2 linked regions of the Homo sapiens genome follow. The protein of the gene in region 2 interacts with the protein of the main gene of each other region in a pairwise test. Each region holds a gene or a part of one and is shown on either strand. Other genes may lie near its edges. The genes, in order: SCGB3A1 and MARCO.

What was found.
Region 1: the proteins of MARCO (region 2) and SCGB3A1 come close enough for resonance energy transfer, tested with the Homo sapiens proteins (one study listed by BioGRID).

Annotation. Positions count from the first base shown.
Region 1 is NC_000005.10:180,589,561-180,604,563, forward strand, and holds SCGB3A1 (secretoglobin family 3A member 1 precursor), read right to left. Parts: upstream 1,940-15,003; 5' UTR 1,903-1,939; coding exon 1,851-1,902; intron 1,279-1,850; coding exon 1,040-1,278; intron 695-1,039; coding exon 671-694; 3' UTR 545-670; downstream 1-544. Other genes in the region: FLT4 (vascular endothelial growth factor receptor 3), read right to left, coding at 13,632-13,830. UniProt on the Homo sapiens protein: Secreted cytokine-like protein. Inhibits cell growth in vitro.
Region 2 is NC_000002.12:118,961,385-118,977,668, reverse strand, and holds part of MARCO (macrophage receptor MARCO), read right to left. Parts: intron 8,510-16,284; coding exon 8,408-8,509; intron 7,556-8,407; coding exon 7,331-7,555; intron 6,171-7,330; coding exon 6,135-6,170; intron 3,337-6,134; coding exon 3,229-3,336; intron 3,149-3,228; coding exon 3,104-3,148; intron 199-3,103; coding exon 154-198; intron 1-153. UniProt on the Homo sapiens protein: Pattern recognition receptor (PRR) which binds Gram-positive and Gram-negative bacteria. Also plays a role in binding of unopsonized particles by alveolar macrophages. Binds to the secretoglobin SCGB3A2.

The sequences.
Region 1 (15,003 bases), on a different chromosome or scaffold from region 2:
AAGGGACACCGATGTCTGGGTTCCCTGGGCACCTTCCCACCAACACTAGATCAGTTGACAAAAGGTGGTCTCTCCGCTAGAGTAGAAGGAATCAAAGTCACTAGGTTATTTGGACAAAACCAGCAGAAACTGCAGGGAAAACAAGCCCAACAGCGGATTTCCTGAAGCCCTCATTCCTCCCCCATTCCGAGGAAGAAATCTACAAGTATAGAGGGAAAAAATAAAAACTTTCAAATTTTAGCAACAAATGGCTTTGGTGCGTTTGCATTCTCGCCAGTCTTCAAGGAGTAGATAATTTTTATGCTTCATAAACAGTTACAGAGCACAACAGGAAGAAAGACCTGCCAGTTTTGTTTCCAAATCCGGTTTACCTCTGATACTGGCCCCATCTCTGTCACCTTGCACTGCTGGCTCTATGCCACCTGCAGACTCTCGCGGCCTCTCTCTCCCTCTCTCACGCAGCACCCCTCACAAAATCTGGGACTTGGCACTCTCGGTCCCCCACAGGGATCAGCATTTGGATGAGAAAATACCAGGCTCGAGCTGCTCTTAACCACGTTTATTGAGAGGGGCCGGGGGAAGGGGATGGACGGTCCTCCCCGCGGCGGGGTTTTCAGCCCTCGCGGGTGGGCAGCGTCTTGTCCTCAGGTGTAGATGCTCCAGTCTCGGCTCAGCCAAACACTGTCAGGGCCCCCTGGAAAGCAGAAGCCGAGCTTGAGTGCCCCCAGCCCTGCCACCAAGAACTCAGGCGGGGGCGCGGCAGCGGCCGGCTCTGTGGGGAGCGGGAGCGGGGCGGTTCCGCTGGCGTCTCCGGGGGACGCGCACCCGCGCGGGGCCATCTCCGCCTTCCCCGCCCCTGCAGCTCGGATGCGCCCCACCCAGTTCCCACCCGGAGACCCGGGCTTCTCCCAGGGACAGGGCTTGGAGGGGCAGGACGGGAAACAGCCCTGACGTAGGGCCGGGACACCTCTGGTGCAGTTTTGAGGCTGGCCGGGAAGGGATGCCCGCGCAGGAAGGGCACCCGGGGTGCCCACTTTACCAGCAGGGCCTTCAGGGCCTTCACGGCCCCCACGGCCTGGGGACCCAGCTCAGCCACACACTTCTGGGAGCCCTCTATGAGGTGGTTCACGGGGATGCCCAGGCTGCTCAGCAGGAGCTTCAGCGGGTTGAGGGTGCCGAGGGGGTTGGCCAGGGTCCCGGCCCCGGCCTCCGCCGCCGACTCCAGCGCAGCGACAGGCTGGGCCACAGGCTTGGCCGAGCCCACTAAGAAAGCAGCAGCTGCAAGCGAACAGGGAGGGGTCACCGCCTGCGCGCCGGGGTCCCCAGAAGGCAGGTCCAGGACGCGCCCCCGCGGGAGGCGCCCAGGAACCGTCGCGCCCTGCCCGGCTCCCCGACCGCCCCTCCCTCCTGCGCCGAGGCCTGCCAGGTGCGAGCCCCCGGGACACAGGCGGGTCTGGGGAGGCGGCCCCGCCAGGAGACGCTGCAGGGTCACCGGAGTGGCCTGAGGGTGGCGGAAGGACCGGTGAACTCTGTGCAGGGTCCGGGACAGGCCCCCAAGGGAGGGGACACTCGCGCTGCGCCTTGCAGGATGAGGAGCCGGTCTCCAGACGGGGGGCAGACGGGTGTCCCCAGGCCAGGGGCGGCCTCCATCCCGGCACGAGGCTGGAGACAGCCCTGAGAGGGGGAGGCCGCGGGCTGCAGGCGCGGGGCCCCGGGGTGGCGGAGCCCTCTGGGCGCCGGGCGAGGCTGGAAGGACCTGGGATCCACGATCGGCGCAGGCAGCGGCGGGGGCGCAGCGGGCGCCGAGGCCTCAGGCCCCACCGTGCGCGCCAGGAGCCCGGGGCGCTCACCGGAGCTGCAGGACAGGGCCACGCAGAGCCCCAGGAGGGCGGCGAGCTTCATGGCGCGGGGGCTCGGGGCGCGCGGGGAACCTGCGGCTGCCCGGGCAAGGCCACGAGGCTTCTTATACCCGGTCCTCGCCCCTCCAGCGCCGGCCTCGCCCGCGCTCCTGAGAAAGCCCTGCCCGCTCCGCTCACGGCCGTGCCCTGGCCAACTTCCTGCTGCGGCCGGCGGGCCCTGGGAAGCCCGTGCCCCCTTCCCTGCCCGGGCCTCGAGGACTTCCTCTTGGCAGGCGCTGGGGCCCTCTGAGAGCAGGCAGGCCCGGCCTTTGTCTCCGCGAGGCCCACCCCGGCCCGCACCTTCGCTTTGCGGTCTGACCCCACGCGCCCCCCTGCAGGGCTGGGCCCGGGTGAGGGGAGCTTCCCTCGCGCCAGGGCAGGGGCGGGGGCGGCGCAGTTCCTGGCTCCCTGGTCCCTGCCTCTGATCCCAGACCGTGGCAACGTCGGGCACTGGGGGTCCTCGTGGGCGCCTTCTGCGCCTGGGGAGGTGGAGGCGCCAGGGACGATCAGGCCTCACTCCCGGCCGCCTCCCCGGCCGGGCCACAGGCAGCCACAGTGCAAACAGAAGTGGGGCGTTTTTCTGTCTTCGAAACTAGCCTCGACGCCAGTGGATGGGCCTGGTTTGTTCCTGAGTTTCTCTAAATGTCCTCACTCGTCTGTCACCTGCAGAAGTATGACAGATGGAGAGCAAAGCACATTTTGAAAACTTTTGCAAATGATACATAAACTAATTTGCTTTTAGTCCTTCTTCTTTCCTCTATTTTTTGACCCCAGGCATTGAGCACTGAGTGACTCACGTTTTGCTGCGTGGCTGCTCTCAGCTAGGTTGGTGCAAAGTCTCTCTTTTCTTTTGTAAAGTGTAGCTGGCACGCGTGGGAAACAGGCTCCCGGGTGGGAGGACCTGACTCTTCAGGCAGTGTCCTGGAATTCCTTCCCTATGGCTGACAGCACGTCTTAGCCCTCAGCCACCCCGAGCTACTGCGGCCTCCTCCGCACCTGCAGACACTTGTGCCTTTGCCAACTGTTGTGGCCAGGCACACGCATTCACACTGTTTCTGTTCACTTACACTTTTCCTTGACTATTTTGTTTGGGGGATTTTTGCATTATAAATCTGGAGTTTGGTTGTGTTTTGTTGGTCATCATGGAAGTAATTTTAATGGGAAATACGTTTTCTTTTTTAAAAACAGTTTGAAGTTAATTACTTTTTTGGTGGTGGTAAAGACACTGTCTTGCCGTGTTGCCCAGGCTGGTCTCGAACTCCTGAGCTCAAGCAATCCTCCCACCTCAGACTCCCAAGTAGCTGGGACTAGAGGTGTGAGCCACCACACTCAGCGGATTTTGATTTTGTTTTTTGTTTGTTTGTTTTTTGAGACAGTCTCACTCTGTCGCCCAGGCTGGAGTGTAGTGAGGTGATCTTGGTTCACTGCAGCCTCCACCTCCCAGGCTCAAGCAATTCTCCCACCTCAGCCTCCCAAGCAGGTGGGGCTATAGGTGTGCACCACTATGTCCAGCTAATTTTGTTTATTTTTTGTAGAGACAAAGTCTCACTGTGTTGCCCAGACTGGTCTTGAACTCTTAGCCTCAAGTGATACTCTTGCCTCAGCCTCCCAAAGTGCTGGGATTACAGGTGTGAGCCACCACGCCTGGCTTGATTTATTTTTATTTTTTCTAGAGATGGGGTCTCGCTACATTGACCAAGCTGGTCTCAAAATCCTGGCCTGAAGCAATCCTCCCGCCTCAGACTCCCAAGGTGCTGTGATGACACGTGTGAGCCACCCCGCACAGCCCAGCTTCACCATCTTAAGGGCACACTCCATTAGCATTAAGTATATTCTAATGTTGTGCAAACATCACCACAATCCATTTCCAGAACTCTTTTCCTCTTATAAAACTGAAACTCTGAGCCTATTAAACAACTCCCCACTCCCCTCCCCAAGCCCTTGGCACCACCATTCCACTTTCTGTCTCTGAATCTGGCCACTCCCGGCACCTCATATGAGTGGAATCGGGCAGTGTTTGTCTTTTGTGTCTGGCGTATTTCACTTAGCATGATATCCTCCAGGTTCATTCATGACCTTCAGAGTTTCCTTCCTTCTTAGGGTAGGATACTGCTCCATTGCATGGCTGTGCCACGTTTTCTTCACCCATTCACTTCACCCGTGGGTGGACATGTGGGCGCTTGCATGTTTTCACTGCTGTGAGTAATGCGGCCGTGAACACGGCTGTGCAAATGCCTCTTTGGGACCCTGCTGTTGGCTGTTTTGGGTGGCTGCTCAGAGGTAGAATGGCTGGAGCCTGTGGAACTTGCCTGTGTCATTTGTGAGGATCTGCCATCTCTCCCATAGCAGCGGCACCACGCTGCCTTCCCAGCAACAATGCACAAGGATCCCAGTGTGTCCACAACCTCATGATGCTTGTTCTTCTCCTGAGCAGGATCTGGCAGCCTTGGCCCAAGCAATCCCAGTGGGCGCATCTTGGGAGCTGACTTTGGGGCCACCTTTCCCCATGCTGCCTGGGGACCAGAGAACACTGACCGCGGGAAAGACCGATGCTGCCGAGGCCAGGAGGAGGGGGAGGCCGTCATCTGTGGGTCCCCAGCAGCGCTTGGGGTCCTGGCCACTCCAGCGGCCCCTTGCACCTGCCTCCAGGGATCCTTTGTCTTCAAAATAACCTCCCTCCACCTTCCGGCTCATAGTGCCTTGGGTGGATCTGTTCCCATTTCCCACAAGCCTGCAGGGTGGTGACAGGCCCTCATTCCCATGTGCCCCAAGATTTCGGATTCCAAAAATACATCCCCTGGCTCCCCGGAGAAGTGTGTCACGGTGTCTCCGTTTCACCACTGACAGGGCCAAAGGATGTGCTCTCCTCTCCCGAGCTGCCATGGTCAAGGCAAGCCAGGACTCACCTCAGGCTGGCCCAGCCCCTCACCCCACACTGGCTCTGGGGGCCACGGCTGGCGAAGCCTCTGCGGTAGTTGGGGATCAGGCAGGCCGAGGGTCTGGCCTGTGCCGAGACCTGCACAGCTGGGTCAGCGGCTGCCTCTGTATTCATTTCCTGAGGCTGCTGTGACAAGTCACCACATACCTGGTGGCTGAAAACAACACATTTACTCCGCTCGCAGTTCTGGAGCCCAGAAGTGCAGTGTCACGGGGGTGAAGGCGAGGCGTCGGGGGCCGCTCCTCCTCCAGAGGCTGGGCCTTCCCAGGAGCTTATCCACTCCTGGCCTCTCCCTGCTTATGGGGGCTGCCAGGGCCCCTTGGCTGGTGACTGCATCACTCCAGTCTCTGCCTCCTGGTCACATGGCCTCCTCCTCTTCTGTGTGTGTGGGTGTGTGTGTGAGGGTGCGTGGGGTGTGTGTGTGAGGGTTTGTCGGTGTGTGGGTGTGTGTGGGTGTGTGGGTGTGTGTGGGGGTGTGTGTGGGTGTGTGAGGGTTCGTGTGTGGGTGTGTGGGAGTGAGAGGGTATGGGTGTGTGTGAGGGTGTGTGAGGGTATGTGTGGGTGTGTGAGTGTGTGTGGGGTGTGTGTGAGGGTGTGTATGTGTGGGTGTGTATGTGGGTGTGTGTGAGGGTTCATGTGTGGGTGTGTGTGGGTGTGGGGATGTGTGGGGGTGTGTGTGTGGAGGGGTGAGAGTGAATATGCATGCAAGTGTGTAAGATGGACAGTGAATGAGAATGTGCATGTGAAGGAGAGTGAGTGGGTGTGAGCTTGTGGGTGTGTTTGAGTGTGAATGTGTGTACAAGTGTGTGTGTGGATAAGCGTGAGTCAGTCTGTGTGGGAGGGAGAGTGTGGGAGGGAGTGTGTGGGAGGGAGTGTGTGGATATGCATGTGTTTGAATTGTGTGCAAGTGTGTGTGAATGTGTGTGTGAGTGTGGGTGTGTGTGAGTGTGAAAATTCTGCCGCCATCTTATGAGTGTGTGTGTTGTTGCATTTAGGGCTCACCTAGATAACCCAGGACAGTCCCCTCATCTCACAATGACGCCCCCAGTCGGGCTGCCGAGACCGTGCCTGCTGAGCCTAACATTCCAAGGTTCCAGGAGCTGGGGTGTGGACGGACCTGGGGCCTGCCATGCCCTCCAAGTGCTGCCCTGCCCCTTGAAGGCCAGGCCAGGTGAGGCTTCCAGGGTGGGTGTCAGAGTCCGCCCGGCATGGGACAGGGGCGGGTGGGCAGCGCCCTCTCGTCAGCCTGGGCCTTCCCTGCCACTCCTGCTTGCGGCCCTTGCTGGCTCAGGTCTGCCGAGACACTGAGAAAGTGCTTGGCGCTGTCTGCAGACGACACGGTCAGCTTGTTCTGGGCAGTGTTTGCAGGGCATCTTTTGGGCCAAAATAAACACGCACACCTTGCCCACTCCCACGGAATGCAGGAAGAGCTGGAAGGTAAACAAGCACTTTGCGGCTCTGGGGAAGGGGCCAGATATTGAATTTGGGGCCTATTGAAAGACCTCAGGGCCTCGGAGCAGGGTACTCAGCCCCTGGGTGCTCCTGCTGGGGAGCCTAGAGGCTCACGGTGCCTCCGCCCGGCCCACGCTTTGGCGGTGCTTCCGCAGACACCTGTGGAGGGCTGTTCAGGTGGCAGATGCCCACTCTGATGCCCCCACCATGTCCCCATTCTCTCTCTGATGTCCTCTCTCTCTGAGGCCCCTGCTCTCTGTGATGCCCCCTCTCTTTGATATCCCTCTTTCTCTGGTGCCCTCTCTTCCTAATGCCTTGAGTACATAAATTATTAAGCAAACTGGGTTGAACTCCGGATACCCATGCCTCTCTGATGTGGTCACCTGGGCAGGTGAGTGCAGCTCCCCGCCAGAGCAGGCATCTTGGTGACTGTTCATTGCCGGAGTTTTCTGGGGCCCCTCTCTGCCCACCTCTGCTCTCCTGGGATAGCAGCTGGCTGTCAGGTGGTGTCCTGGTGGCTGGGCCCTGGTTAGGTTAGCCCTCCATGCTAGAATGATCTGGGGCTTTGGGAGGGGTCTGTGGTGCTGTTCCAATAGAAGCTGCTCTTCTTTTTATGTCTAGAGCCAAAGGCCGCAGGCGCTGGACCCCGGCCCCGAGGCCCCCTTCCTCACTCCTTCTGAGCAAACTTTCCTACTCGAAGGTGGGGACCGGTGGGCAGCCCTGGTGGTGTCAGCCGGCACCCTGAGTTTCCCGATGGTCCTGGGACCCTTTTTCAAGGGACTTGTGGGGGCTCCTGGCCAGGGCCACCACAGCGGCCAGCAGCAGCGACCCTCCACACCGCCCTGAGTGGGCCCCACAAGGACAGGCACCTCGGCCAGTCCCAGCAGGCACTCTGGGCTTTCTCCTGCGCCAGTAGGAAGTGGTTTGGCTCGGCCCCGTGGGCCCTGGGGCGCTCAGCACCCCCTCCTCAGCCCCCGTCCTCCCTCCTCATGGCTCGGCCCCGTGGGCCCTGGGGCGCTCAGCACCCCCTCCTCAGCCCGCGTCCTCTTTCCTCATAGCTCAGCCCCGTGGGCCCTCGGGCACTGGGCAGTGTCGTGAGCATATCCGAGCGCCCTCTGTGGCACCGTCCCTGGGTCAATATTGATCTGGCTCTCAGCCACTTCCTTTTGCCCCTTCCCTGTCGGCACTCCCACCCACAGGGCCCTGCTGTGCGGAGGGGAGCAGGTGCTGTCGATGTGGTTCCTGCCTTGTGGGTTCAGGGCATTGGTGAAAGTGACAGAAAAGCTGACCCACGTGGCTTTAAGCAAAGACTGAAATTCCAGGAGTGGCTCCGCCTTCAGGGAAAGGTTGATCCAGGCTCAAAGGATGTCACCAGGACCTCATACCTCATTCTTCCCTGCCATCTCTCAGCTCCTTTTTTTTTTTTTGAGATGGAGTCTTGCTCTGTTGCCCAAGGTGGAGTGCAGTGGTGCAATCTCGGCTCACTGCAACCTCTGACCCCAAGTTCAAGCGATTCTCCTGCCTCAGCCTTCTGAGTAGCTGGGATTACAGGCGCCCGACACCATGCCCGCCTAATTTTTGTATTTTCAGTACAGCCAGGGTTTCATCGTGTTAGCCAGGATGGTCTCGATCTCCTGACCTCGTGATCTGCCTGCCTCGGCCTCCCAAAGTGCTGGGATTACAGGCGTGAGCCACCGCGCCCGGCCTCTCAGCTCCCATTTTTTAGAGTTGTCCTCCTTGGAGTGACAGGCTGGCAGCCAGCAGTGCCAAACCTCCGATACCAATTTGGGCCCAGGCACACAAGCGCTGGTGCTATCCCCAGGGCCCTCCCGTGAGGCTTCACCCCACTGCTCCAAGGACCGTGCTGGCCACAGCAGCAGCAGCAGAGGAAACATCGTGTCTCATTAGGTCCCACTTCCCTGCTTCAGTCTGTTCAGTGAGGAAGGAGGCTGAGGAAGGGGTGCTGGCAGGGATTCAGGAGGTGACCCTGGGCAGGGCTCCACACCTCTGTGTGCCCAGCAGCACTCCCTGTCCTCCCCACCCCAATACCATTCCATTGAGGAAAGCACTTCAGTCCCCAGAGCCCCACCGTGTCCAGGGACTGAAGTGGTTTCCTGCGTGGAATGGCACTGGGGTGAGACGGGCATTATCACCCTCACGATTTAGAAGAAACACAGCTCAGAGAACGTCAGTGACCGGCCTGCAGTCCCCTGGCAGTCTGAGATGGGTCTGCACGGTGCCCAGGCCATGCTCTTCACACGCCCATTGACCCGGAAGGCACAGCGTCCTGTGCTGCCTCCACGTGCCAGGGCTGGGAGCAGCCAGGCAGGGGTGAGAGTTGGGGGGTCAGACCCAGGGGAGGCCCCAGCCCAGACTCCAGGCCAAGATCCCACCATGGCAGAGATGCACTTGCTGCCGTCCCAAAGCAAGGCCCCTTCCGAGCGTTCCCTTCCGTTACTGCTGCCTCTCCGTGGAGACTGGCTGATGACTTCCAGGTACCCGGCTGTCCCTAGGGGAGGCCATGTCCTTCTCAGGGGAGCTGCCTCCTTCCAGGGCCGGGCAGTCCTGTGTGGCCCTGCTGCCCACAAGCCAGCTGTGATGGAGCTCCTGGCAGTGCCTCAGAGCAGCCAGGGATGGGCGGGACCCTGGGAGCTGCCCGGCTGACTCCACCCCTGTGTGCCACAGAGGGGCAGCCCAGGCTGCCAAGGATGCTGCCCCCAGGCGTGTTCCAAATCCCTTAATCCTCTCTCTCTGTGGCCGCTCTGGGCTCCCCATCAAGCCCTAGTTCAGCCCCCACATCCTCTAGCCTCCCGGCCCACCATCAGCTTTATGGCACCCTTGGCCACTCGTGGCTCGGGTGGAAAGTTTAGGAGTTTCTGCTTCCCTCTTTGGATGCGCCCCTGAGGGGAAGGTGGTGTCCCCCACTGGGCCCAGGAAGGGGAAACGGTCCCCTCTCCTCGCGGTGGTGGCTGCAGCCAGTTACTCCTCCAGAGCAGAACAAGGGTGGGGGGAGTGTGGGGGCGCTTGCTGACCTCAGACACCGCCCAGTTTGCCCTCAGGAGGGATGCATTTCCCCTGTGCACAGCGCTTTGAGGCTGGGCTCACATTTCTTTCTTACAGTCCTGGAAGCTGGGAAGGCCAAGATCAAGGCGCAGGCAGATCGGGGGTCTGGTGAGGGGCTTCCTGGTTTCCTGACAGCTGACTTCTCACACGGTGGAAAGAGGGCTACGGAGCTCTCTGGCCTCCTCTTGTAAGGACACTAATCCCATTCCCAGGGGCTCCACCCTCATGACCTGCTCACCTCCCAAGGGCCCCACCTCCTAACGCCATCACACTGGGAGTAGGGTTTCAACATGTACATTTCAGGAGGACACAAACCTTCAGTCCATCGGGCATATGGGGGACGGGTGGGAGCACGTGTTAGCTGGTGCATGGGTGGGTGGGTGAGTCAAGGGGGGCTCATAGGCCCCTGTTCACACCACTTGGTCGGAAGGGGGCTTTTACCTGGGTGTGGTCACCCCCAGCACCACTGGGGCCTTATGACTTTTATCACCAAAGCTCTACAAGGTGGCAGTCATGAATGAGAAACTGAGGCTCCGAGGGGAGGTGCTGGGCTCAGGCTCACCAGCTGCAGGGTGCCACATCTCATACCCCATCCTCCGCTCCCAGCCCTGAGGAGCCCTCAGAGCCCAGCCTGTCCCAGGCTCTCTGCCCAGTGGCAGAGGAGACCCAGGCCTCATTTGGTGGTTGCCAAAGGCACAAAGGCAGTCCCCGCTCAGTGATGCTATGGTCCCCTCCCTGAATCCACATGCAGAGATCAGGGCTGGAGATGGCCCCAGTGACCTGGGGACTGGCCAGCACCTTGGACACTGTGGCTGATTATCTGGGCTAAGCACACAGCTTCAAGAGTCTACCTGGAAGCTAGGCACAGTGAGCCCCGTAGTCCCAGCTACTCAGGAGGCCGAGGCGAGAGGATCATGTGAGCACGGGAGGTTGAGGCTGCAGTGAGCTATGATTGCACCACTGCACTCCAGCCTGGGTGACAGAGTGAAACTTCGTCTCAAAAAAAAAAAAAAGTTGATTTGGGCCCACTGGGGTGGAGTGGCCTGGGAGTGGTAATGGGGTGAGGATGGGGTCAGGGGAAATGAGAGGGAGGGAGCCGGTGTTGGTGCTGGAAGCTGCTTTTTGGGTTCCCTCCTCCCAAGCATAATGAGCATCTAGGGCGGGAGCTGTGTAGGGCCCTCCCGGGGGTCCCTCTGATCTCCTAGCCTGCCAGCACCCCTGCAGACCCCGCCAAGCTCCTTCAAGATCCCTCCTTCTCGGTGAAAGACGTCAGCCCTTCTCAGAATGCCCGTCTAGCCTTAAAATAAGAAACAGGCCCAACTCTGGACTCCCAGGCCCTAGGTCCCCTGTGGCCTCCTGTCCCACATCCCACTTCCCTCCCTCGCCTGTCCTTCTGGTCTTCCTCTTTGCTCTTCTTCACTCCTCACAGCAGGGGCTGCGGTTTGTGAGTTCCAACTCCAGGGCCTAGGACCACGTGTGGCTTTGAGCAGCCACCCGGGAGCTCTGCCTGCTGGATGCAAACGCCAGGGCCTGAGCACACCGAGAGGCACTGGGGACGTCAGCATAGAATCAACAGCATCAAAGGACATTCGGGCATGTCCTGGGCCCCAAACCTCCCCCAAGCAGGTGACGAAGGGCTCTTGGCAGAAATGAATAGAGTGAAGGGCTGGGGTGGAGGTGGGGAGGCATAGGCGGGCGGTGGCACCCAGAGAAGGGCTGGAGCCTGAGAGGAGAAGGTGAGAAGGTTCTTGGGAGGCAGAAGGGACCAAGGGGCCCTCGCAGTGCGAGCACGCTGTAGCCTGGTGTGACTCCTCCCTCCCCGCTCGCTGGCTGTCTCCATCCACACAGCCACTCCTGGAGTGAGTGGTGCTCTGGGGTGTGAAAGGGTGGCTGGGACCTGCAGGGACACTTGAGCCCAGCCCTTAAGGTCCAACCCAGGAAGTTCCAGAGGAGCCCGGAAGTGTGAGCGCAGCCCTGCTGGGAAATGGTACGGGATGGGAGCACAGAGGTGTTTCAGTTCCCAACACACAGGGGCATACTTTGGGCTTGGAGAGCCGCTCAGCCCTGGGCACGGGGGGACACCCTGTTGGTGGACACCTGGGTTGGCACATATGTCAAGGTCAGTGACTAAATTCAGTCAATTATAATGGAAAGCTAAAATATCCAAACCCAGCCTGGGCAATACAGTGAGACCTCATTTCTACAAACCAACCAACCAACCAAAACAAAAAAAAAGCGGCCGGGCGCGGTGGCTCACACCTGTAATTCCAGCACTTTTGGGAGGCTGAGGCCGGGAGTTCGAGCCCAGCCTGGCCAACATGGTGAAACCCCGTCTCTACTAAAAATACAAAAATTAGCTGGGCGTGGTGGCAGGTGCCTGTAATCCCAGCTACTCAGGAGGCTGAGGCAGAAGAATTGCTTGAAGACGGAGGTTCCAGTGAGCCGAGATCGCGCCACTGAACTCCAGCCTGGGGGAAAGAGCAAAACTGTCTCAAAAAAAAAAAAAAAAAAAAAAAAAAGCCCAATGTGGGGGCTGTTCTGTATTCCCATTTAGATTTATTACGGAAGCAAAAACAATAAAAGCAACACTCCCGTCCGCAACACACACAAAGACCGGCATCAGATTTATTATTATCTCTTGTTAAATATTTTCGATCTTTTCTCAGAACATGGTCTAGAAGGGCATAGTAGTTTTTTTCCCGGTACATGCGTGGGTGGGTAGTGAGGAGAAGGGAGCAGAGGTGCGCGCCAGGAGCCAGGCTGGTTCTCTGCAGAGAACAACCTCCAGATCCTCCCAGGGAAGCCTGACACGCCAGTCCCACGTTGGACGACGTGCAGAGGAAGGGGGAGGTCCACGGGGACGACGAAGATGACCTTATACGTGCACTCGGCATATCCTGGAGTAACGCGCAGTGGGGGAGGTGGGGAGGGGAGGGTCGGCCGGGCAAGCCCCTGCCCGCTGCGCGGCGCCTGTCCTGCAAGCGTCTGGTGCGTGGGTTTGGGGGGTCAGGGTGGTGGTCAGTCTCCGTGGTCCTAACGTGGGGATGTGGCTCTTTCTCCTGGTGAGATGGTTGGGCACTGTGAGCTGGGATAGGGGTCCTGAGCAGAATGCCTCCAGCCTTCAGGGGATCTCTCGGCTGCTCCTCTGGGAGGGCGGCATTCTGACCAGCCAGGGTGCTGATGTCAGGCACAGGGCAGGAAAAGGCTGAAGGCAGGTCCCCAGAATGTCCACTGAGTGCTGGGTGGCACAGGGCAATGCTGGGTGGTCCTTTGTGCCAGCCCCGAGCCTTCCTGAGTGGATCCCACAGTGTTCATCTCTCATGAGCTGGTTCACGGCTTGGGAGGGGCCGCAGGTGGCAGATCCGGGCTCTAAAGGGAAGAACCAGACCGGCAGCTCCAGACCCAGGCTCCTCGGAGTCTGGGCCAGGTGGGAGAGCAAGGGCCTTCTCCAGAGGCACTGACTGCTCTGCTGGCCTTGACCTGGGGCGGGGGTCAGAGTCATCTAGACTCAGTACAGCTGTCCCTGGGCGCCTTCCAGGCTGAATTCGGAAAGCAAATTCTTCTCAGCAGCTCTAACAGTCTGTGAAGTTCTGTTGAAAAAGACTTGCAGGATGGCTCTCAACACCCAGGCGCAGGTGTGCGGGCTGCCTCTGTGTTGCCAGCGTATAATACTGTCATACTGGTGGCCACCCCAGGGGCTAGTTGGCTGTTTGGTCAGGCCCAGAAGAGGACCCTGCAAATGCCTTCTTTGAGATGGAAACACAGCCCCTCCCTTCAACTGTGCAGGGGTGGGTGAGGCCAGCCAGCCCTCGTGGGGAGAGTAGCTGTGTGCCTGAGGAGGAAAGGGCGTTTGGGAGACCTCTGCTCTCGTATGCCTTAACCTCCAACACTGTGTGACTCCCAGACCCACAGATTCCTCGTGGGAAAACAGGGACCAGGCCACCACCCAGTGTGATGAAAGGAGGTCGCCAAAGAGACATTCCCATGGAAGTGCTGGCCCCGGGACCAGCACCTGCGGATGCTGAACTAAATGACATCTGAATCTCAGGGGGAGGGGCCGGGGCAGCTGGAGCGTGGCCCTGGCCAGTCGTGGTGACGGAATTCCGGGAGCCTTGGGCCTGGAGTCCTGCTCTTCCTAGCTGGGAAGTCTGCAGAGAGGGAAGAGGACACTCCTGTGCCACCAGAGTTCAACCAGATGAGTTCCCAGCCTGGGCCTCCAGCCCTCTGCCCGCCCTGCCGGGCCTGAACCCCCAAGTGCTGGGGGTCTTGTCCGATGCTGCTTAGTAGCTGTTGTCTGTGAAGAAAGTCACGCGGGCAGACGGGGAGCAGTGGTCCTCCTCGCTTGGCTCCGACAGCTCCCCATACTCGCTGTTGTAAAACACCTGGCCTCCTCGGGCCCCCCGCTCAGGCCGCCGCCGCCTCCCTTGGGAGTCAGGGTGTGCCCTGGTCACAGCCACATTCTGGCCAGGTCCTTTACAGCTGCCAAGACAGGGAAGGTGGTGTTAGTAAGAGAAGAAGGCTGGGTGGCGGGTGGTGCATACTGGTAATCCCAGTACTTGGGAGGCCTAGGCAGGCGGATGGCTTCAGGCCAGGAGTTAGAGTCCAGCCCAGGCAACATGGGGAAACCCCGTCTCTACAAAAAATACAAAAATTAGCCAGGCATGGTGGTGCACGCCTGCGGTCCCAGCTAAGTGAAACAATTGCTTGAGGCCGGGTGCGGTGGCTCATGCCTGTAATCCCAGCACTTTGCTGGGAGACCGAGGCGGGCGGATCACGAGGTCAGGAGATCGAGACCATCCTGGCTAACACGGTGAAACCCCGTCTCTACTAAAAATACAAAACATTAGCCGGGCGTGGTGGCGGGCGCCTGTAGTCCCAGCTACTCGGGAGGCTGAGGCAGGAGAATGGCGTGAACCCGGGAGGCGGAGCTTGCAGTGAGCTGAGATCGCACCACTGCACTCCAGCCTGGGCGACAGAGTGAGACTCCATCTTAAAAAAAAAAAAAATTGCTTGAGCCCAGGAGGTGGAGGTTTCAGTGAGCCAAGATCGTGCCGCTGCACTCCAGCCTGGGTGACAAAGTGAGACCCTGTCTCAAAAACAAACTAACAAAAAACAAGGAGGGACTGGAGCCCTGTCAGGGTCTGATGGGAACCACCAAGGACACAGTGGAGCATGGCATGCGTTCAGACTTCAGAAAACACACACAGACTCGACTCAAACAGCAAAGCGGATCGATCTGATCCAGCACTCACTGGAGCTCTGTCCCTACCTAGCCTGGACCCGAGACTGTGAAGAATGTCCAACTTCATCCCCCAACCCAGTTCTCACTCTGTCTTGCCCATCTCAGTGAACGGCACCACCGTCCCCTCAGCCGCTCAAGCCAAGCACCCTGGGGTTCTCCTTGCTTCCTCCTTCCCCTCACTCTTCAAAGCCAATCCATCCAGAAGTCCTGTCCATTCTAACTCCAGGACACATCCGTGCATCTCCATTCCTGGCCCTCCTGCGGAGCCAGCTGTGTCCTTGCCGGCTCTGTGACATCCTCCCGCGGACTGCTGTGTGCTTCCACCCTGGCCTCCTGGTGGTCCACCCTTCAGAGAGGTCCTTCAAGTTACACTATGTCATTCTCCTCCTGACACGCCCTCCAACGGCTTC
Region 2 (16,284 bases):
TGTGACAGGACTCAAGAGAAGAGGACTGTAGGGTGGGCAGTAACTGTCAGGGGCTGGGGTGGGGCTGTGGAAAGAGGATGGGGGGTGGGGGGGAACTGCCTCAGTGCCTCAGGCTATGCATCATTTGTCCCTAGCAGAGCAAGTACAAGTTACCAGTGGCTCCTTGCTTCCCTGGAGCACCCTGGGGTCCTTGGAGGCCTGTGAGGAAGGAAAAAAGAGCTCAGTTGCTGTGGCCTGAGAATGTCTAAAATGTCTTTAATCAGCTGACATTCTAGATTCCCTTAGTTGAGCAAGGTTCCCAGAAGGAGATCTTTCTCTCTCTCTCACTCTCACTCTCTCTCTCTCTCTCTTTTTCACACACATGCACACACACAATCACACACATATGATTGCACAAACACAACCAGCAGAGTCCCTGGCAGTTCCAGGCAGTGTTTGCTCTTGCTATGGCATGAAAGTGTCCCTCAAAAGTTCATGCATTGGAAGCCTGGTCCTTAATGCAGCAGGTCCTAGTGGGGAGGTGTTTGGGTCACAAAGACAGATCTCTTATGAAGAGATTAATCCCATCTGGCAAGATGGAGTGAGTTCCTGCTCTTGTGAGACTAGATTAGTTACCAAGAGAGCTAGTTCCATTTCTCCACCACATTTTGACTCAACACAAGGCCCTCACCAGAAGCTGCCAGAGATAGCTGCCCAATCTTGAACTTCCCAGCCTGCAGAATCATGAGCTAAGTAAACCTCTATTCTGTGTAAATTACCCAGTCTCAGGTATTCTGTAGTAGTGACACAAAACAGGCTAAGACAGCTCTCTTCCCAAAGGTCCAGAACAGCACCTAGGAATATGTCCTGCATGGCAGTGCAGGAAAGGCTTTAGAGTCAGGCAAGTGTGTTTGAATTGTAGCTCTGTCACTCCCCAGGCTGATAACTTTGGAAAAGTCACTTAAGTATTCTGCATCTGAATTTTCTCATCTGTAAAATGGGGCTGCTAATGACTACCTGTCCTCAGCAGATGCATAATTAGTGTTCTAAGACAAAATTGGAATTGAGAAACGGTGATTCCCACCCACATGGCCCAGGTATCCAAGGCTAGCATATGGAGTACAGACTGGAGGTGCTGGGTGTTCCTGGGGCAGGGGCAGGGGCAGGGAGGGATCTGTTGAGGAGAGAAATGGTGAGACTATGAGGGGAAATTGAGGGATCCAGGAGGCAAAGTGGAAAAGGATGGGAAGGAGAGGAGTGAGAGGAGGTGGGTGTATATAGAGAGGCTCTAAGTGAGTTGCTGAATTACACAAGCTTTTCCTGAGGATGCCAGTGGGGCCCAAGCAGAAAGTGCAGATGGGCTCTGGACTCCACACTCTCTATGGAACCACAACAGCCTACTTTGTGGATCTGTTTCATGTATGTGGGTTCCAGATGATTTGGGCTGAAAAAGGGGTTGCCTGGTTTTAGTGCTAGTGGTTGCACAGTCCTGCTCTGAGCCCTCTGTCAAGGCTGTGTGATGTGCCTACCTGTCAGAGTCCTAAAGAGAAGGGGAGGCTCCAGCTCTATTCCTTCTTGAAGGAAATGACTGTGCTCCTCAGGCTTCTGGCTTTTCCCTTCAAGCCAGCCTCAGTGGCTCCACTCTGGTGAGTTTCAGTCACCTAGCCTGAGTCCCTCTCTCTCGGAGGAAAGAGGATGGAGGGAGACCCACTCCCCTCTGAGTGAGCCTGCTCTGCTCAAGCCCCCACAGGCTGAGTGTGAGTGTGTGTGCATGGGGGGTGCGAATGTCTGCAAATGTGTGTGAGCATATGCATATGTGCACAAGTGTGATTGTACTTGTGCAAGTGTAAGAATGCAAATATGTACATAGATGTGTGCTCAGACACGGGTGTGCATGAGTATATGCGTGTATGTGAGTGCATATATGTGCATGAGTATATGTGTGTATGTGAGTGCATGTGTGTGCATGAGTGTGATTACATTGGTGCGTGAGTGAGTGTGAGAATGCAAGTATGTGCACAGATGTGCCCTCAGACATGAGTGTGAGTGTGTGTGGTGTGAATGCATGTGCACACCTCTGACTGCACCATAAACCTTCCTTCTTCTGGTCTGCCTATCCTCCCCGCTTAAACCCTCCTCAGAAAACCCCCTGCTGGACACAGATCAATAGGCTCTTTGGGGTCCCTTCTATTAAATTCCTTCCCAAAATCAATTTCTGGAGGATTCTACCTCCTAACAAGTTTCCTTTCTTGTAACTGGTGGTGTTTTCTTTCTGCCTCAGCAGCCTGGCGGCTTAGAGACCTGCTTTGTTTACTCCCCACTCCCTTGTAAATCCTCTCATCTGCCCTTTGTCTAGTAAAGGTCTTAATGTCTTCGCATCTTCACATCCCAGCAGCCTCAACCCCTTGCGGAATTTGCAAGTTGGAGTTTCTAAATTAAGGGTGGATGGGAGCAGAGTGGAATGGAAAACTGATGTTTGGGTTTGTCCCTGGGGAGGGACAGCTCTGGGCCCCCCATTCTCTGACCGGGCCCCGTGAACCCATTTATATTAATAAGATGGCTGGGCAGAATTAGGCAACAGTCTAAAAAAATGGAAACTAATACTTTCCAAGCAACGATCATGAGCTTTGTGTCATTGTCTCTAATCCCCCTGGCAGCCCTCTGCAGCCCTCTCATCCCCAATCACAGAAAAAGAAACTGAGGCTCGGTTTCTTTGGGAACATCAGGAAACATTCCCAAGGGCACAGAGCTAGTCCAAGGTGGAGGTGCATGTGCCTGACACCAGAGTCCTTGTTGGACCAAGGAGGCCAACTTTCCAAAGTGGCACTGGCAGACTTACATTCTCACACAGAGGAGGGGGTAGGAGTCACACCCCCCAGCCCCATCTAGGATGAAGGCCATCTAGCCATACCTGCCCCTGAGGGCGGCTGCCCAGCCCTACTCTGGCCACCAGAAAGGGTGCTTCCCAGCCTCTCATCCCCTCTGGGGTCTCCCACCAGGCCTCCGTTCACCTACAGACCCCTCAGAGGTCCAGACTCTGGAGGGAGGCTGCGTCTGCAGCCCACAGCAGTCACTCTGAGAAACTTGCTGTGTATTTCTGGGTACATACCCAGCACCTACTCACCCGCCTCTCCCTTGACTCCCGGTGGGCCTTGGGGTCCCGAGGGGCCTGGAAGGGAAAGGGAATTCAGAGTGAAGCCAGAGAAGGAGGAGGAAAATGATTAAGGGTCAGAAGAAAAAGACCCGTACCTGTTGCTCCATCTCGTCCCATAGCCCCCTTGGCTCCCTTCTCAGCAGGTGGTCCCGGCGGGCCAGGGGCACCAGGCATGCCCATGGCCCCCTTGTGACCTTGAAGACCTGAGGAAGAGGAACAGAGACACTAATGAGTCAGTCAACAGGATGGGGCAACAACGCCATGCAATCACTTACATGGTGATTCATTCAACAAACGTTCACTGAGCATGGGGATGAGCCAACTGTGTGGAAAGAAGGAAAGAAGACAGAGCTCCTCCTGCAAGAAACCCATGGCCTAGAAAGCAAAAGAGAGACACTGAGTCACAGTCCTAGGAGCAGGTGTTAGCACTGCCCCTTTAGCTGGGTGACCTTGTGCAAGTTACATCATCATTTTGAGCCTCAGCTCCCTCATCAGTAAGATGGAATTAGTGTACTAATTACACAGGGATGTCCTGAGATTACCACGTGGGGACCATCATGGAAAACACACAAGGCAAGCTCACAGGAAGGCTCACAAGGGCAGGGCCTTGTCTGTCTTCTTCATGTCTGGATCCCCAGTGCCTATGCGACTTCTCATCCTCATGGAACTTTCAATAGGTATTTGTTGGGAGGAAGGAAAGAAGTCCAGGATGGATAGGGGAGAGAAACAGAGAGGCAAGTGGGTTTCGCAATCCCCTTCCCTGAAGCTTGGCTGAGGAGCAGTTCCCCTGACTGTGTTCCAGGCAGCCTGCGTGGGAAGGCAGTTCCACCGGCAGGCTGCCTCCAGTGAGACCATGACTTCTGGGTTCCACACCCAGCCCTCCTCCCCCACCCACCTATTTGTCTCTGGAGCCTTTTCAACAAAGGAACCTCTGGGAAGTCTTGACCAGGCAAGGCAAGCCATGGGGAAGGGGAGAGAACACAGCCTCCCTGGGTGGGAAAGGGTGATGGGCGGGGAATCTGGAGAGGCAGGTGGTGTCCGAGGAGGAGCCGAGACTTCTATAGCCCCAGCTGCTGGAAGAAGTTTCCTGTCTCTGGTTTCTGGGCACAAAAAGAAAGAGTGGGAAGAGACAGAGAGAGAGAGAGAGAGACAGAAGTCAGAGACAGAGAGAGACTGAGAAAGACATGGAGAGTGAGAGTTGGAGATTTTCTCTATGTACATACATCTATATTCAGAGAGAGAGAGAGGGAGACATGGAGAGAGATAGTTGGAGTTTTTCTCTATGTACATACATCTATATTCAGAGAGACAGAGAGAGAGACATGGAGAGAGAGAGTTGGAGTTTTTCTCTGTGTACATACATCTATATTCAGAGAGACAGAGAGAGAGACATGGAGAGAGTCGGAGTTTTTCTCTATGTACATACATCTATATTCAGAGAGACAGAGAGAGAGACATGGAGAGAGAGAGTTGGAGTTTTTCTCTATGTACATACATCTATATTCAGAGAGACAGAGAGAGAGACATGGAGAGAGAGAGTTGGAGTTTTCCTCTATGTACGCACATCTATATTCATACAGAGAGAGAGAGAGCCATAGAAGCCATGTTCTGTGCTCTGGGGTGAGGTGGGCAGCACTGTGCCTAGGGCGGGTGACAGGCAGATTTTGAAGGTTGTACTGAACCCATTGGGTTGAGAAGAAGTTTAAGCATTGATTCTGTCAGCAAAAGCAATTGAAATTGTTGAAACTGCCCCTCCTTAAAGGAGAGGAGCCAGCATTCATCAGGCTGGAGGCTCTCCTAGCAGCAGCATTTAGTTTTCTCAAGAATAACAGAATAACAACCATATATAACAATAGCAAATAATAGTCATAATAATAACGAAGACAAGAACATCATTGAGTACTTGCTCTTTGCTGGACACTGGACTAAGAGGTGTACATTTATTGTTTTATCCTGACACCAATCCTAGGAAGTCCTACCATATCTCCATCTTACGGGGGAGGACATAGAGCTCAGAAATGTTAGGTGACTTACTCAAGGCCACCCAGTTTACAGGGGCAGATCCAGGATTTTCTGTAGGCCCACCAGTCTCCCAAGTCCCTGCTTCCATCACTTTGCAAGGCTGCCTCAAAACCCTCCCTGGCCAATGGTGTGATCTGGGCCATCCTTGAAATATTATGGGACCAAAGGATTCTGTCCCAAAAATGGCATGTATATTTATCCTCAGGGGGAAATTTCAACCACTCAGCAGATGAAATGGAACAGGGCTGTGAGTGAAGCGTGTGTGTAACACAACACATGTGGGTTGAGGCAGGAAGAAAAGGCAAACAACCATAGCCTTGTCCTCAGAGAGCACATGCCATTGTCAGACAGCTTTTGCACTCCCTTGAGTCCTACAGCAACTCTGTGAGGCGAGTCGATTATCTCCACTGCTTCCTACACAGGTGAGTGGCTGGGGCTCCAGAAAACTTAAGTAACTGACCCAGAGTCACACCGCCAGTAAGCCCCAGGCCCAGGATTAGAACTCAGATCGGCCTGACCGCACAGCCTGCGCCTCCATGACACCTGCCTCCCATCATTACTGCCCTGTAGGAGAGAGGAGTGAGACACCATGGAAATGAGCACAGCACCTCTGGTGGGAAGTGCTATGTATGTGGTAGGTAAGAGTCACCTGGAAGGAATGCTTACAGGAAACCAGGAGAGAGGCTGCCCTGGCAGCCAGATGATGCCTGGTCTGGCCTGGGAAGGTAGCTAGATTTGGATGGGGGAGTGGAGAGAGGAAGCCTCTTTAAGTAAGGAGGGGGATGACAGCCCAGGGTCTGGGAGTCCAGTTAAGTTCTGGGAACAGAGAGGAGACCCAACTGAAGACAAAGGAGGCTGTGGAGACAGGGGAAGGTAAGCTAGGGTCAGCTGTCCAGACCCAGAATGGCACAGGCCAAGGGGCCCTTTTGGGGAGGTTTTGGGGAAAGAGCAGGGTGGGTGTGAGTGGAAATGAACCTACCTGGGGCGCCTTGTTCACCTTTGATTCTGAACATCCCTGCAAGGGAAGGAGAGTGAGCTGCAGCTGAGCTGTGGGGTACCCTTGGCCCAAGCCCCAACTGAGAGTGCCCAGGTTCTGCAGTGGGAGGGTAAGCCCTCCTGTGTGGGGCTCCCATCAGACTGTGGGGGTTTGGACAACAGGAGCCAAGCACCTGGCTGTTTTTTGGGAAAGAGTCCTTGGAAAGAGCCAGATGCTCAGCTGCAACTAGCGGACTGCACCCCGAGACCTGTAGATCCCTGGGAGTCTTGGAGGTGGGGAAAGGAGGTTGCTTCAAACCAGCCTGAGGAGGTAGAACCCCTTCGTATTGGTCAAAATGAGCTCCTTCACATTTCAAGGAAGGAAGAGACACTCCCATGGTGTCTGTGTCTGAACGTGGACTCCTTCCATCTGCCCACAGCTATCGCCCCTCCTCACACCCCCACTCAGCCTTCGTCTTTTCTCCCTGGGGAGGCCACAGCCTCTGGAGGGATTGGCCTCCTGGGTCCCGTGCTGGGCGTACCCCTTGGTCACAGGACCTAGCCATGGGATCACCCTCCTAAGCCTCAGCTCACACAGGGCCCAGAGCAAGGAACCCTGCTGGGGCTGGAGCTCTGTGTCACGGGGTAAACCCTACAACAGTTGAGCCACACCTAGCAGCTGGTTTTGCTGAAACTGTCTGAGGGCGAGGCTCTTCCCATTTTGGGGCAGGCTGAGAGAGGAGAGGGTGCAGCTGCAAGGCCCTGAGAGCACCGAGGGAAGGGGCACCCTTGGGGTTTTAACCCTTGGCTCAATTTTCCCCAGCCTGCAGCCCTACCACCCAAGTCACCACCTTTCCCCCAGCAGGTCCGGGTGTCCTCCTCCCCACAAAGTCCCCACATTGTCTGAACTAGTTTGGTGCCTTCAGTTGCTCTCTCCCCAACCTCATGTCAGTGTAAGTCAGCTGTGGGGGAGTGGTCCAGGGAACCGCCCCAGGCTCTGTGTTTTACCCTCCCTCCCAGACATTCTGGATCCATGTGGGGACTCTGGGTTCAGACTTGGCATTGAGCTGGTTGCTCTAAGTCCCTGGCTCTTGGAGGTCACACTTTGCTTGGACAGGGTCCTTAATTTCCTGGTTCCTGATCCCGCTGTCTCCCAGACCTCTGTTGAGAAGTCCTGACCCAGAGGGGAGGAGGCCAAACCTGGGTTCTGAGTGAAGTTGTCTACCCGCTGCAGCAAGTGCTCATGGCTGACGCGGACCCAGGTGAGTTGGGCCTGCAGGACTTGCAGCCTCGATGCACCCTGAGCCAGGTGTTCTCCAGGGTGTGCTGACTGCAGCAAGGAGAAGGACGGGCTGTCCTCAGCCGCCAGAGTGTCATTGAGGAAATACATCTCCAGGACCCGGAGCCGCGCCTGCAGATTCAGAACTGGGCCCCACCCCACAGCATTCTTTTAGGGACTGAGGCATTTGAGCATATCCCTGACATTCTTGTGTCATGTGTGCATAACTTCTACAGGCCCTGAATTTGTAAACACAAATTCCATGTGCTGTCAGGACCTAGCGTGAGCACACGGCCTTTTCTACATCTTGACCATGTGCGCTCCACACTCAGGCATGATATTGCACGTCCACAAAACATTTCTGCGTGGCCTAAAGCTGTGCCTACTGCATCCACAATCAATCTCCAACCTTCAGGCAGTTAAGACCTTCCTGCATGCTCTGGGTGTAGATGCATGACAGCTAACATGCTGGTCTGACCTAAATATGTGCAAGCAGCATTCGTGTGTGATCTTAATACACACAAGACGTGTTTATGACAACTGCTCATTCAGCGTTCTTGAGTGACTTCAGTGTCTGCTCATGGAACGACTTCATGACTTTAACCTTTAGATTGGGAATACTTCAAAAGTAAAATCATGTTCAAATGGACACTTGGATCAGCAAAGCCCTTCCCACTCAGAGGCTGGGAGTCTTAGATGTCAGAAGTGTGTGTCATCCCCCGTGTGAAATTATGATGTCTTTCACTGCTTAGACACATAGGCTCACAAGAGCATTCTCAATGTCTCTCTCTCTCCCTCCCTCAGGCACACATACACACAACATACACTCCTTCTTTGCTCCTCTCATCACTGTGGCTGCCAGGGGCTGAGACTGTCTCCCAGCAGATGGGAGCAGTGGCCCGAGGCTCTCCACTCAACCTGAGCCCTTCATCTGAGGGGCCCAGCTGGGTCACCCCTCTCCCCCCAGGAGGGACTACACAGGACCAAGCCTGCTTTACCTTGGACCACCAGCAGCCCAGCGCCAGCGGTGAGCAGGATCAGGTAGATGACCACCACAGCTAGGGAGAAGTTCACCCCATTTCTCCTCTTGGGCTTTGGAACTGAAACACAAGCCAGGAGGAAGGAGGCTGCTGCAGAGAACACAGCACAGGAAGTCCCTGCCTGCTCCAGGCCCTACTCCATGTGAGCAGGGGGCACCCTGTGAGGTCAGCTGGGAAAGACACCAAAAGCTCATGACTCCCAAATCATCCCCCAATCCTCTTTCTTGCCACAAAGCAAAAATTGCCACTGTTGGTCACTCATCTGTGTGGCTGGGCAAATAAACATCTGTGCCATATATCATTTGCTGGAAAAGGTGTCATATCAACCTTGTTCACTGGTGAAGCCCCAGCATGGTGCCTGGCCCTGTTGGGTTCTCAATCTCTGTTTGTGGAATAAATTATGAATTAATGTGTTTAAATTTCAAAACTCTGGGAGGAGGAGGGTTGTTCCCATTTGGCAAACAAGTAGTGAGACTTGGAGAAATTAAATAACTTATTAGGTTATAAGAAGCAGATCTGGAATTCATGTCTAGGTCTTTTTTTTCCTTAAGATTTGTAAATTATAAAAGTAAAACATGCTTGATATATTTTATCAAATAATGTACAGGGCATGACAAGGGTTAATAATCATCCCTCAACCCCCTAAGGTCCTAACCCGATGAGATAATCTCTATTAGCACTCTGGGGTGTGGTCTTCCTCCCATCCCTCCTGTCCAGAAATCCTACAAACCCATATAGTCTGAGAAAGCCTTTTTTTCTTTTAATCTTACAAATGATATCATAGTACATAAAATACCACACATTGCTTTTCACAGTGAAAGATTTTCGTGGACATTTTCCTAGTTTTCTTTGTAGAGAGAGATTAGCTGCCTAATACTCCTTAGAGACAAAAGCCACAGTTCATGCTAACATTTCCCTTTTAATGAGCTGTTTCCAGTTTGCGACATTACAAAAGAGGCTGTAATATTTCTTGCCTGGAAGTCCTGACTCTAGTCTTTCGTCAGCTGTTACTCTGTCTTGTTTAGGGGTATTAAAGGGAGGGCCCCAGACTGCAGAAGGCCCTGCAGTTCCTACTGCTCACATTAAATGAGCACCTATTCCACACCAGGCATTTACCAACATCATCTCTAACCATTGCAGCAACCCTGCAAGGTAGGCATGGTTACACTCCTTTACAGAGGAGAGAGCTGGGGTTAAAAAGTTAAGGTGGCAGGTGACACAGCAGGCATATGACCCCAGGTTGGTCTAGCTTCAAGGCCTGAGCTTGCCTCACTAGCCTGCACTGACCACTGCCCCTAGGAAAGATCCAGTTGAAATGGGCCCCAAGGGCACATCTGAAAGGGAAACAGACAATAATGAAGGAGCCCAAGGGAATGTGTGCCCAACCATGTTTGCTTTTGTGATAGGGGCAGGTGGGTTTTAACTATTGTGACAGATGCACTTAAACCTCAGATCTTTTCCTATCACCTGCAGCTCCTGTGTTTACCCTGCTGATATTCCTTCCAACCCCCGCACAGCAGGGACCCCTGCTTGAGAAATGCCCAGATGAACAATGGTCTAGGGGTAGCTCTGGCAGCACAGAGAGGAGTGGTTTTGTTGGTGGGTTGGTTGTTTAGCTAGTGGTACTCGATTATACTCAGTTTAGCATGGAGTGCCCCGTCTCCTCTGCACCCTACCCCCCAGAATCCAGGCTCACACAGCAGCCTGAGTGAGCCCCACAACACATAACCTGCCCAAGTCATTCCCTGCTCTCAGCCCTTCAGTGGGGGCTCACTGCTCCCAACCTGGCACCTGAAGCCCGTCTGGCCAGCTCTCCTATGGCTGCAGTTCCATGTCACACCTCCACATGGATCCTGACCAATGGCCAGGCCAGATGACAACTGGTGGCATTCTTCTGACTTGGGGCAATGTGTGTCCCCTGAATACTGGCTCTCCTCCTTCCCTTTCACAAGACTAATTTCTGCTCATCCTTCGGAAGTTCAGTAGAGCCCGTCCTGCTTCAGGACACCTTCTCTGGTTCCTCTGGGCTGGGTGGAACCCCCCTTGGCTCTCCCACATCACTCTGTTTCTCTCTGCCATAGCACTGATCACCCTGGATTGTGTTTTTGTCTCTGTCTCCCCAAATGGCCTGGAAGCTCTTTGAGCTGTATTCCAGCACCAACGTGGTATCTGGCACACAACATGCTGGGAAGATGATGACTGAATAGATGAATGAATGAGTGGCTACAGAGGTTTGGGTGCTGAACATGTGCAGAGTTAGAAGTGTTGAAAGAACATCAGGAATGCAACTCAGGGCCTCAGGTATTCATGCAACCGTCATGATGAAGACAAATAACACACGAGGGGAGCCTCACATTTAACACGAGGTGGTGGATGGCAAATTGGCAAATACAGTGTCATGGACAGCACTGTTTTTGGACAGCACTAAATTTTATGAAACAAACATCATGGGAATGGAAAGGTAAATTGTGCTTCAGAGACACAGGTATTACAGAAGTCAGAGGCTGGAGCAAGCATGGAAAATACAGATATTTTGAAACCATATGGTCAGAGCGTGGTGGAAGGCATGTGAGTAAGGATACAATGAGAAAAAATAAGGTATGGTAATACTGTGACAGTAGTTCATGGATAGCCATCCAGGCCCAGAATGCTTTTTAAATTCAGAGCTACCACCTGGCATAGAGGCAAAGTATTTTAGAAACTGGGAATGTTGAGCCTGTAGACCTATATAACTCATTCTGTACAAAATGGAGGGTCTGATGAAGTCTTTAGCCTCTACACTGTTCATTTCATCTCTTAGAGGGTAGAAGAAACTATAAAGAAAACACCTATTCTGGATCAGGTTTGACCAAAGAGGAAGAGCTGCTTGACATGAGAGGATAAAAACAGCTGCTAGTAAATAAAAATGGGCTTCCCTGGAGTAAACCTTGATGAGTATGGGCAAAGATTTTAGGCAAGCAGGTTTCAGAAATTTGACAGCTCTATTGTCTGGCCCACAATGAAAACATAGCTCAGGAGGGAAATAAAAATAATTTTTCAAGTCTGTAAAAGATCCCAGTGAAGAAAAAAAGCCTGCACACAAATTCTAGTCTTTCCAGGTCTGCCACCTCCTGGGGTAGCAGGCAGTGCTGGTAGGGTGTCCTCCTCCAGGTCTGCCACCTCCTGGGGTAGCAGGCAGTGCTGGTAGGGTGTCCTCCTCCCGTGCTATAACACTAGTGGACATTGAGCAGGTGTCCTCACTCTACCCTAGCACTGGGCTGCCTGGTGAGCAGACCCAGAGAAGTAATGTCTTCCCTTTGGGCCTGATGTATCTCACTTCCTACCTGATAGCACCAGGCAGTACTGGAACGTGCCTTCTGCCTTGCAGGAAGGACCAGCAGGGGACCAGCAAGAACTAATGGCACCAGGTAAACAAAGTGGATCAAAATAACGTGGACAGGGCTCTGAAAACTAAATTGTCATTGTACCATAGCCCACACAAGTAGGCCAGAACCTACATAATAAACCTAAACTGTGTGACTCTGTGACTGTCTACTAAAATAGAAGTTTTAAATAGGACTCAGAATCTCCTAACATACTATACAAAACATCCATTATATAATGGAAAATCACCCATCATACAAAGAATAGAGAAAATCACAACTCAGATGAGAGGAGACAATCAAGAGATACCAGCATTGAGATGACACAGATGTTAAAACTATTCCACAAGAATTTTAAAGCAGCTGTAACAAAATGCCTTAGTGAGCAATTAAAACTATTCTTGAAACAAATTTTTTAAAAGCTCACCAAAATAGTACAACATATAAAAAAAGAACCAAATGGAAACTATAGAACTAAAAAAATACCAATGAAAGAAAAAAGACTTGGTAGATGAGCTGAATAGTGTAATAGATGTGACAGAGGAAAGAATCAGTTAACTCGATGATAGAACAATAGAAATTACACGTCTGAAAAACAGAAAATCAGCTGGGAAAACAAACAAACACACATGAACAGAGCCTCAGAGACCTGTGGGCCAGTAACAAAACACCTACAATTCATATCATTTAATTCCTAGAAAAAGTGTGAGGCTTAAAAAATATTCAAAGAAATAATGGCTAAAAATTTCCCTAATTTCGTGGAAGATCTAAACCTACAGATTAAAGAAACTGCCAAAATCGCAAACATGATAAACTCAAAGAAATCCATATCAAGACACATCATAACTAAAACATTGAAAACATAAAAAGGCAGAGAAAATTAAACATCTAAGGAAAAAGGAAAAATCTAGAAAGCAGCCAGAGACAAATGGCACATTACTTATAAAGGAATACTTTTTTTTTTTTTTTTGAGATGGTATCTCACTCTGTCGCCCAGGCTGGAGTGTACTGGCATGATCTCTGCTCGCTTCAACCTCCATCTCCTGGGTTCAGGTGATTCTTGTGCCTCAGCCTCCCAAGTAGTTGTGATTACAGGTGCACGCCACCATGCCCGGCTAATTTTTATATTTTTAGTAGAGACAGGGTTTCACTATGATGTCCAGGCTGGTCTTGAATTCCTGACCTCAAGAGATCCGCCCACCTCAGCCTCCCAAAATGCTGGGATTACAGGCATGAGCCACTGTGCCTGGCCAGGAATACCAATTTGAATGACAGAAAGTTTCTCATCAGAAACTATGGAGAACAGATGTAAGTGGTACAGCTTATTTTGTGTTCTGAAAAAGAAGAATTGTCAACCAGGAATTATATTGCCAATAAAAATACACTGTGGGAATGGACAAGAAATAAAGACACTCTCAGAGGAAGAGAAATGAAGAGAATCTTTTACTGGCAGAACTAACTTTAAAGAATGACTAGAGGAGGTTCCCCTAACAGAAAGGAAATGATATAGTAAACTAGAATTTCAAAAAAGAAAGAGAATAATAGAACAAGTAAAAATAGGGATATATACTACAGCATCCTTCTCCTCATGAGTTTTAAAAATCACATTTGATTTTTAACACAAAAATTATACCACCTGATGTGGTGTTCAGTGAATGTAATAGAAAATGACAATTATATTTAAAAAGTGGAGAAGGCTAAAGAACATAAATGAAAGTAAGATTTCTACACTTGACTCAAAATGGTAAAATGTTGATATGTTCTGTATGTATATTGCAATAGCCAGGCTGCGATAAGTTCCATATGTATATTGCAATAAGTAGAGAAACCATTAAGAAAACTATTCAATAAAAAACACTATAAATAAATCAAAATGGAATTCTAAAAATTATTCAAATAATCCACAGGAAGGCAAGAAAAGAGAAATACATGAATGGGAAACAAAGAAAAAACAGAAAACACACAATAAGATGGCCAATTTAAGCACTGACATATCAATAATTACTTTCGGTATAAATGGTCTAAATCAGAGGACGGATATTGCCAAACTGTATTAAAAAACATAATCCAACAATGTGCTATAAATAAGAAATCAAACAATAGAACTTCAAAATACATGAAGCAAAAACTGATTTAACTGAAAAAAGAAATAGACAATACACAATTATAGTTGAGACTTTAACACGTAGTTTCAGCAATTGATAGAAACTCTGCAAAGTTACAGAAGAACTAAACACTAGCACTACTGACTGATAGTATCTAATGAACACACAGAATACTCCAGGTAGCAACAGCAGAATGTACATCCTTTTCAAGGACACATGGAACATACACCAAAATAGATGATATCCTAGGTCATAAAACAAATTTCAACCAAATGAAAAAAAACCAAGGTCATACAGAATACCTTATTTGCCAATAATACAATAAAAATAAAAATCAACAATGGATAGGCAACAGGAAAATCTCCAAACATTTGGAACATTTAAAAAAGGACTTCTATATAATGCATGGGTCATTAAGAAAGCATCAAAAAAATTTTAAAAATACAAATGAAAGGAAATGAAAATACAATATATTAAAATTTATGGGATAAAAAAAAGCAGCTCTGAAAAGAAAATTTATAGCACGAACTGCTTACACCAAAAATAAAAAAGGCCTCCAATCAACACACTAAGTTTTTTCCTCAAGAAATTAGAAAAGAACAAAATAACTCCTAATCACCAGAAAAGGAAATAATAAAGATAAGAATATAAATAAATAAAATTTAAAATAGGAAGATAGAGAAAAATCAATGAAACAAAAGCTAGCTCTTTGAACAAAGTCAATAAAATTGGCAAATCTCTAGCAAGACTGAACAAAAATAAAAATGAAAGAAGACACGGATAGCCAATATCAGAAATGAAACAGGTGCTATCACTACAGATCCTGCAGCCATTAAAAAGAAAATAAGAAAATACTATCACTAACTTTATGCTCACAATTTAAAGGAAATAGGCTAGTTCCTGAAAAGCCACAAACTACCAAAACTCAGCCAAGGTGAAATAGATAATCTGAATATCTATAATCATTAAATAAATCTAAATTTTAATTTAAAAGCTCCCAGAAAAGAAATATTCAGGCCCAGATAGTTTTACCAGCATATCGTAATAAACATTTAAAGAAGAGTTAGCATCAGTTTTACACAATCTCTTACAGAAAAGGAAGAAACACTTTCTAATTCATTTTATGAGATCAGAATGATCCTAATATGAAAATCAAAGATAGTCCAGTAAAAAGAAAGAAAGAAACAAACAAAACTATTTCATGAACTTTGACACAAAAATCTTCAGTAAAAGGCAAGCAGAGAACAAAATTGTGAATGAACTTCCATTCACAATTGCTACAGAGAATAAAATACCTAGGAATACAGTTAATAGAGGACGTGAAGGACCTCTTCAAGGAGAACTACAAACTGCTGCTCAAGGAAATCAGAGAGGACGTGAACAAATGGAAAAACATTTCATACTCATAAATAGGAAGAATCAACATCATGAAAATGACCATACTGCCCAAAGTAATTTATAGATTCAACACATTTCCCATTAAACTACCACTGACATTCTTCACAGAATTAGAAGAAACTATCTCAAAATTATACAGAACCAAAAAAGAGCTTGTATATCCAAGAAAATCCTAAGCAAAAAGAACAGAGCTGGAGGCATCACACTACCAGACTTCAAACTATTCTACAAGTCTACAGTAACCAAAACAGCATAGTACTGGTACAAAAACAGACACATAGACTAATGGAACAGAATAGACAACTCAGCAATAAGACCGCACGTCTACGAGCATCTGATCTTCAACAAACCTGACAAAAACAAGCAATGGGGAAAGGATCTCCTATTCAATAAATGGTTCTGGGAAAACTGGCTAGCCATATGCAGAAAACTGAAACTGGATCCCTTTCTTACATCTTATACAAAAATTAACTCAAGATGGATTAAAGACTTAAATGTAAAACCCAAAACTATAAAAACCCTGGAAGAAAATCTAGGCAATACCATTCAGGACATAGGCATGGGCAAAGATTTCATGAGGAAATTGCCAAAAGCAACTGCAACAAAAGCAAAAATTGACAAATGGGATCTAATTAAACTAAAGAGCTTTTGCACAGCAAAAGACACTATCATCAGAGTGAACAGGCAACCTACAGAGTGAGAGAAAATTTTTTGCGATCTATCCATCTGACAAAGGTCTAATATTCAGAATCTGCAAGGAACTTGAACAAATTTACAAGAAAAAAAAACAACCTCATTAAAAAGTGAATAAGGGACATGAACAGACACTTCTCAAAAGAAGACATTCATGTAGCCAACATACGCAAGAAAAGAAAGTTCAACATCACTGATCATTAGAGAAATGAAAATCAAAACCACAATGAGATACCATCTCACATCAGTCAGAATGGGGATTATTAAAAAGTCAAGA